Linked DNA regions of Homo sapiens: region 1 is linked to region 2. Evidence: fine-mapped expression QTL. A gene starts in region 2. The other region holds a variant in brackets. All regions are shown on one strand. Distances are between the middles of the regions. Region 1 has its middle 16 kb from the start of C6orf141. Region 2 holds the start of RHAG (Rh associated glycoprotein).

Evidence for each region. PIP is the estimated chance that this variant, and not a neighbour inherited with it, causes the effect.
Region 1: its variant is the best candidate, but not a certain one, in a credible set for the expression of RHAG in breast (GTEx, PIP 0.50).

The regions. Positions count from the first base shown.
Region 1 is chr6:49,565,014-49,567,940 of GRCh38, reverse strand. It overlaps the pseudogene CYP2AC1P. Among named protein-coding and RNA genes, the nearest start is that of C6orf141, 16 kb to the right of the region's middle. The variant A/G (reference allele first, on the strand shown) is at 1,325.
Region 2 is chr6:49,635,881-49,638,804 of GRCh38, reverse strand. RHAG (Rh associated glycoprotein) reads left to right here and starts at 1,966. Exons shown (of 10, transcript NM_000324.3): 1 at 1,966-2,149. The coding sequence starts at 1,993.

The DNA.
Region 1 (2,927 bases), 71 kb after region 2:
CTACTCAGGAGGCTGAGGCACAAAAATTGCTTGAACCAGGGAGGCGGAGGTTGCAGTGAGCTGAGATTGTGCCACTGCACTCCAGCCTGGGTGAAAAAGTGAAACTCTGTCTCCAAAAAAAAAAACAAACAACAACAACAACAACAACAAAAAACTACCTATTTACTGTAAGATTCACCTATTACACAGCAAACCCCTTGAGAGCAAATCTCAGAGCCAAGCTCAAGCGACATTGACATTAAACATATCAATCTTGTTGCTATGAAACATACATTTGTGAATTGAATGGTTAGCTCTTATTTAACAAGCATTTCCAGGCACTATCTGCAGCCTTTCACCTCCCAAAAAGCTTGCTTTGTTATCAGACATAGTGAGAAAATGTTTCTCATTCTTGGAGTTAATCTATTTGCTGGAAGTCCTATATAAATAATGCTTTTTTTTTTTTTTTTTTTTTTTGAGACAGAGTCTCCCTGTGTCACCCAGGCTGGAGTGCCGTGGCGCGATCTTGGCTCACTGCAACCTCCGCCTCCCAGGTTCTAAGTGATTCTCCTGCCTCAGCCTCTGGAATACCTGGGATTACAGGTGCATACCACCATGCCTGGCTAATTTTGTACTTTTAGTAGAGACAGGGTTTTACCATGTTGGCCAGGCTGGTCTCAAACTCCTGACCTCAGGTGATCCACCTGCCTCAGCCTCCCAAAGTACTGGGATTACAGGGGTGACCCACTGCACCTGGTCAATATATCTGCTTTTAAATATTTTTCTGAGCTTTGAAGTCTTCAGTACACTTATCACACTTACCTTGTAAATTAAAGAAACAAAAACATGAAATCTAACTAAATTATATGCAACATTTTACTGACAAGCAGCAAGCAGCAAGTTTAGGATTTACAGACTATGGGAGCAGGAATGAAAAGACCTGGTTGGGTCTTCTGAAGGACTGGAAGTAGAAACATTTAATAATACTACATTTCAGTGCAGTAGGCTATCTTTGCTCTGTAAAACAACCACAAAGCTCATTAAACTTAAGCTGAAAAAAAATACCATTCTCAACACAATGTCTTAAGAAATACATATGTATAATCATTAAGACCACAGTAGTTTTAATAAAAACTTACCTAGAATGCTTCCTTCCTCAATTTTAACTCATTCCACTTTTCAGACACCTTGACATTTCCCAAATAATTCATGTTTCAATATAATACTAATCAAGTCTTTCTCCTCAAGGTGCTTTGGCAGCTTCTTAACGTTGGTTTCCAAGGTCCCGTGATGTAGTTTCTACTCATTCCTCTGGCTTCGGGTCTGAGAACCTAGTTCGCGCTCT[A/G]TGCCCTAGCCAGAGTGAAATTTCTTCCAGCCCTCAAATCTTTCATGACCCCTTCCACAAATTCCCCATCTTTGCCTGGCCAACTTCTCACCCTTTGTATGAGAGTTTAGATACAAAGCCGTTGTACAAAGCACGAGCCCTCCCTGACTCTCCAAGCCACATTAGGCCCCTTTACTATGTCCCCTTGACACACTTGGCTTTACTTGTCATTAACATTTTTCACATTAAAATATGACCATTTTATTGTGTGTCTTTTCCATGGAGCTCATAAAGCAAAGCTGGCTTTTGTGCTTCGTTATGTATTTCCAGGGCTTAAACTGGAAGGCAGAGCTCATGAAGCTCAGGGAAAGTTAAGTGAGTGATCTACACATTCCAAAATAGAAGAAATCACATGTGGACTGTTTTTGTCTTTGTCTAGATTGTTTTTCAGATTTTTGTGCCAATATGTTTTATAACCCCCCAGCATGTCTGTGTCCAGGTCGCCGGATGTGTGCTGGTGAGTCATTCGCAGGAAGGAGCTTTTCCTGTTTTTCACCAGCCTCCTGCAAAGTTCACCTTCCAGCCACTCCCTGGAGTCTCCCATCTGGACCTGGACCTAAGCCTGGACGTTGGCTTCACCACTTGACCAGTGCCTCATAAGACCTACGCTCTGCCCAGGCCTAGGCTCTGCATATGCGCCGGAGCCTCAGTTCTCACTGTTATCTTGTCCGTAGCATGAATTTCTCCTTCCTGCACTTCGCCGGCCACAGTATTCTGCCAAGCGGTTTGAGATTATTTAGGTGGTCAGCTGTACCATCACAGAGCATTCTCATGTCACATCAGAATGAGTTCCTATGCTAACTGCTGTAGTGGAAACATCCTTACTGCCATCCTCCATCCAACAAATAAATAAAACATTTCACAAATAGAACCTTCACTTAGAGCTTTAGGGTTTTGTCTTTCAAACATGAAACTGGTCCTTCTGTCACCAATCAGTAGTTATAATTGATGTGTGTTTGTGAGGGGAAGGTACTTTATAACACTTTGTCCTGAGATCATGGACGTCACCAAAATGGCAATGAAAAAAACTGCAATAAAGAAAATTCAACTCTTAAGTGAGGATCACATCATACTAAACATGAGGCAATGGTTTTACTCTGTGAATAACTAAAAAAACAATGGTTAATAACAGAGAATTGTTTGGGCATACAGCCAGCTTGCTGAGATCAAAAGTATTCACTCCTGGCTGGGCACAGTGGTTCACGCATGTAATCCCAGCACTTTGGGAGGCCAAGGCAGGCAGATCACTTGAGTCCAGGAGTTCAAGACCTTCCTGGGCAACATAGCAAGACCCCATCTCTACTAAAAATACAAAAAAATAAAAATAAAAATAAAAATTAGCCAGGCTTGGTCATACACACCTGTAATCCCAGCTACCCTGGAGGCTGAGGCATGAGAATTGCTTGAAGCAGGGAGGCAGAAGTTGCAGTGAGCTGAGATTGTGCCACTGCACTCCAGCCTGGGTGACAGGGTGAGACTCTGTCTCAACAACAACAAAAAGGTATTCACTCTTTTTTTTAGCAAGGTTGGAACTTGAAGACTCCCACGTCCCTGTTTTCAGTGC
Region 2 (2,924 bases):
GGAGATCAATGAAGGCTTTTCTGAGGAAGTATCATTTTATCTGAAAACTGAAGAATGATGGATGATGTATATAGGACAGGGAGCAGAGAATATGTGGGAAGATTTCCAGTTACAAAGAGAAGCTTATGTGAAGAACTGAACAAGAGAAATAATTTCCCAGATGGTAGACAATGCAGCTTATTTCAATACAAATGTCTACATTCAGAATAAGGCAAAAAATCTGAATTCCTCGAAGTTGAACAGGCTGAAGTCAAGTGCTGGCATAGTCCCATCACCTATATGAGTAAAATCCTCTACTCCCCATGTGTTGAGTGGTTGCTGAGCTGCTGGAAATGTCCCAGAGAAAGAGAGATGCCATCGGTCTTGGATTGTTTAATATACTGTGTCACTTTTTATTAAAGAGTTTAAAACCGCATTGGTTTATGATATTGTTTAGATGTTCTTGCAATTTATTATTTGATACTTGGTTTTCACAAGTTTATGCATAGTTTATTAACATATACACTTTTCATTTAGGATTTGTTGGAGTTCTCATGAACACTCTTTAGGCTGCTGCAAAACCAAAAATTAAAGTGTGAGATGTACACATGTATTTTCATAGCTAAGCATGTGAACCCACTCCTCTTGTACTATGCTGTAACGAATAATGGAAATAGTCATTTTTCAAAGTGTCTGTATATTTATAAAATTTCAAATATCACTTAGTCCTAACATATCATGTTCTACTGTGGAAAATCATACCAGAAAGACCAAAAAATCCTGCTGCTTTGTTTTATAAATATTTATTACAATGTATGTATCCTGGCAGTCAGTTGCACTCTCTCTCCAAATTCTGCATAGAATCTTTTGGAAATTGGGCTTCATGAAAGAAATTGTATTTAACTGGTAGCTCTTAGTTCTCAAAAACAGGTTTATTCTGCCATGAGAACAATTCCAAAGAGGAGACAAGAATTCCTCCACCTATATGGTAGTTTTGAATTGCTTAGCATCTTATTTACACTTGACTATCTATAAGGATGATAGATTAGTTATGTTCCTGTTTAAGTTTACTCTCTTCCTATTTAAGACTAAAAGATATATCACAACTCATTTGTGTATTTCCATATTTTCACTTGCGTAAATCAGAGTAAGGAGTCAAAAACTTCATAAGTACATAAAACTGCTTACAGTCCTATATATTCCCCATTGCTCATGGGATAATATTTAGCATCTAGCATCCTCGGTACTGAATGTGAGGGTCTTTACAACACAGCCACCTCCATGACAACATTATCTCTGCCACTTCCTCCTTTTCTCTTCATCTCTTTTACATTCCAGCTTTGCTTGACTGATTGCCGTTTCCAAAACATGCCATGTTCTTCCAAGATTTATATCATTCCCTCTTATCTGTTTTACTTGAAAAACCCTATTTATGTTCTAGTTCTCACATCCATATTGTTTTATATGCTAATGTTCTTGGCCTAAGGCAAAAAGTTTCACTGCCTTATTTATGTTTTATAATACTTTTATAACCACTATTATATCACATATTTGTTTTTATATAATCATTCACTTATATTTATGTTTTCCCAACTAGATTCTTAATTTTCTCAAGAAGTTAACAGACCAATTATATATATTGCTTTAGATTCATGCCTTCTACAAAGCCTACCACAATATTTGGTATACAATAAGCCCTCAAGAAATGTCTACTGAATTAAGTTAAACATGATTCTAGAGGCCTGTGCAATAGATTGTTGGCATCATCCAGGTTCTCACAATTTCATTGCATATTCTTCAGATCAACATTTAGAACGACAATTAGATTACAGAGCATAATTTTCCCCAATGGGTGGGGCATTTTAATCAGTCTTGCCCATTTTTTTTTTCTTGTGATGTCATTGGGGTGCCTTGAACATGCAGTCAAATTCCACACACAGAGCAGTCCTTTGTTCTTATCAACATCTCACAGCCTGTGAAGCTCTCAGTGTGCCTCTGTCCTTTGCCACAAACATGAGGTTCACATTCCCTCTCATGGCTATAGTCCTGGAAATTGCCATGATTGTTTTATTTGGATTATTTGTTGAGTATGAAACGGACCAGACTGTTCTCGAGCAGCTCAACATCACCAAGCCAACAGACATGGGCATATTCTTTGAGTTATATCCTCGTGAGTAGGCAATTTACTACTTACTATACATTTTTCGGTTCTTCGGTTTCTCAGAATGTAAAACAATTGAATACTATAAACCCTTGAGCTCTTTGTAGAATTATATGATGGTTATGAGTGCTAAGGATATTACATGTTTGTGATGTGACATCTGGTCTTCTTCTCTGTGATTAAGGTGCTTGGTTGGAACTTTTTCCTATTAAAATATCAGAACAAGAAGCTGAAAATTAAAATAATTGATGCCTTTTGTATTGCTTATCTACTGCTAAATGACCTTTTTCCTTCAGTTGGTCACTAGTTCTGCAAAGAAAAGTATCACGCTTCCTTTGCATTCCCCACTGAAAGGGCCAAAGGTAACTTTGGAGGAGAGAGAGTTCTAAGAATGGAGTTATAAGAAGGGAACCCTAGATTTCATGTGAGGACCCTAAGGAATAAGAAGGGGTATTTAGTATGATGTAGGAAGTTAATGGAGTTTTAATCAAAAAAGTGTACTCAGAGTTTTACAATATTCTGAAAGGAAGTCGGTTTGTTACTTTGAGATGAAAAGAAATGTGTGAATACTTAACATATTTTAAAAACAAAATCCTTCCTTGGGAATGATGATTGAGCAAAGAGAGAAATTTAATTCAAGTTTGGAAGGGTAGGCTGTAAAATAGTTAATATAACAATAACTACCATTTACTGCGTCCTTATTATAAACCAACACATCCATTACCTCATTAGCCAGGAAGGAAGACAGTAGTATGTCACTATTATATAGACTATTTGCTTTTCT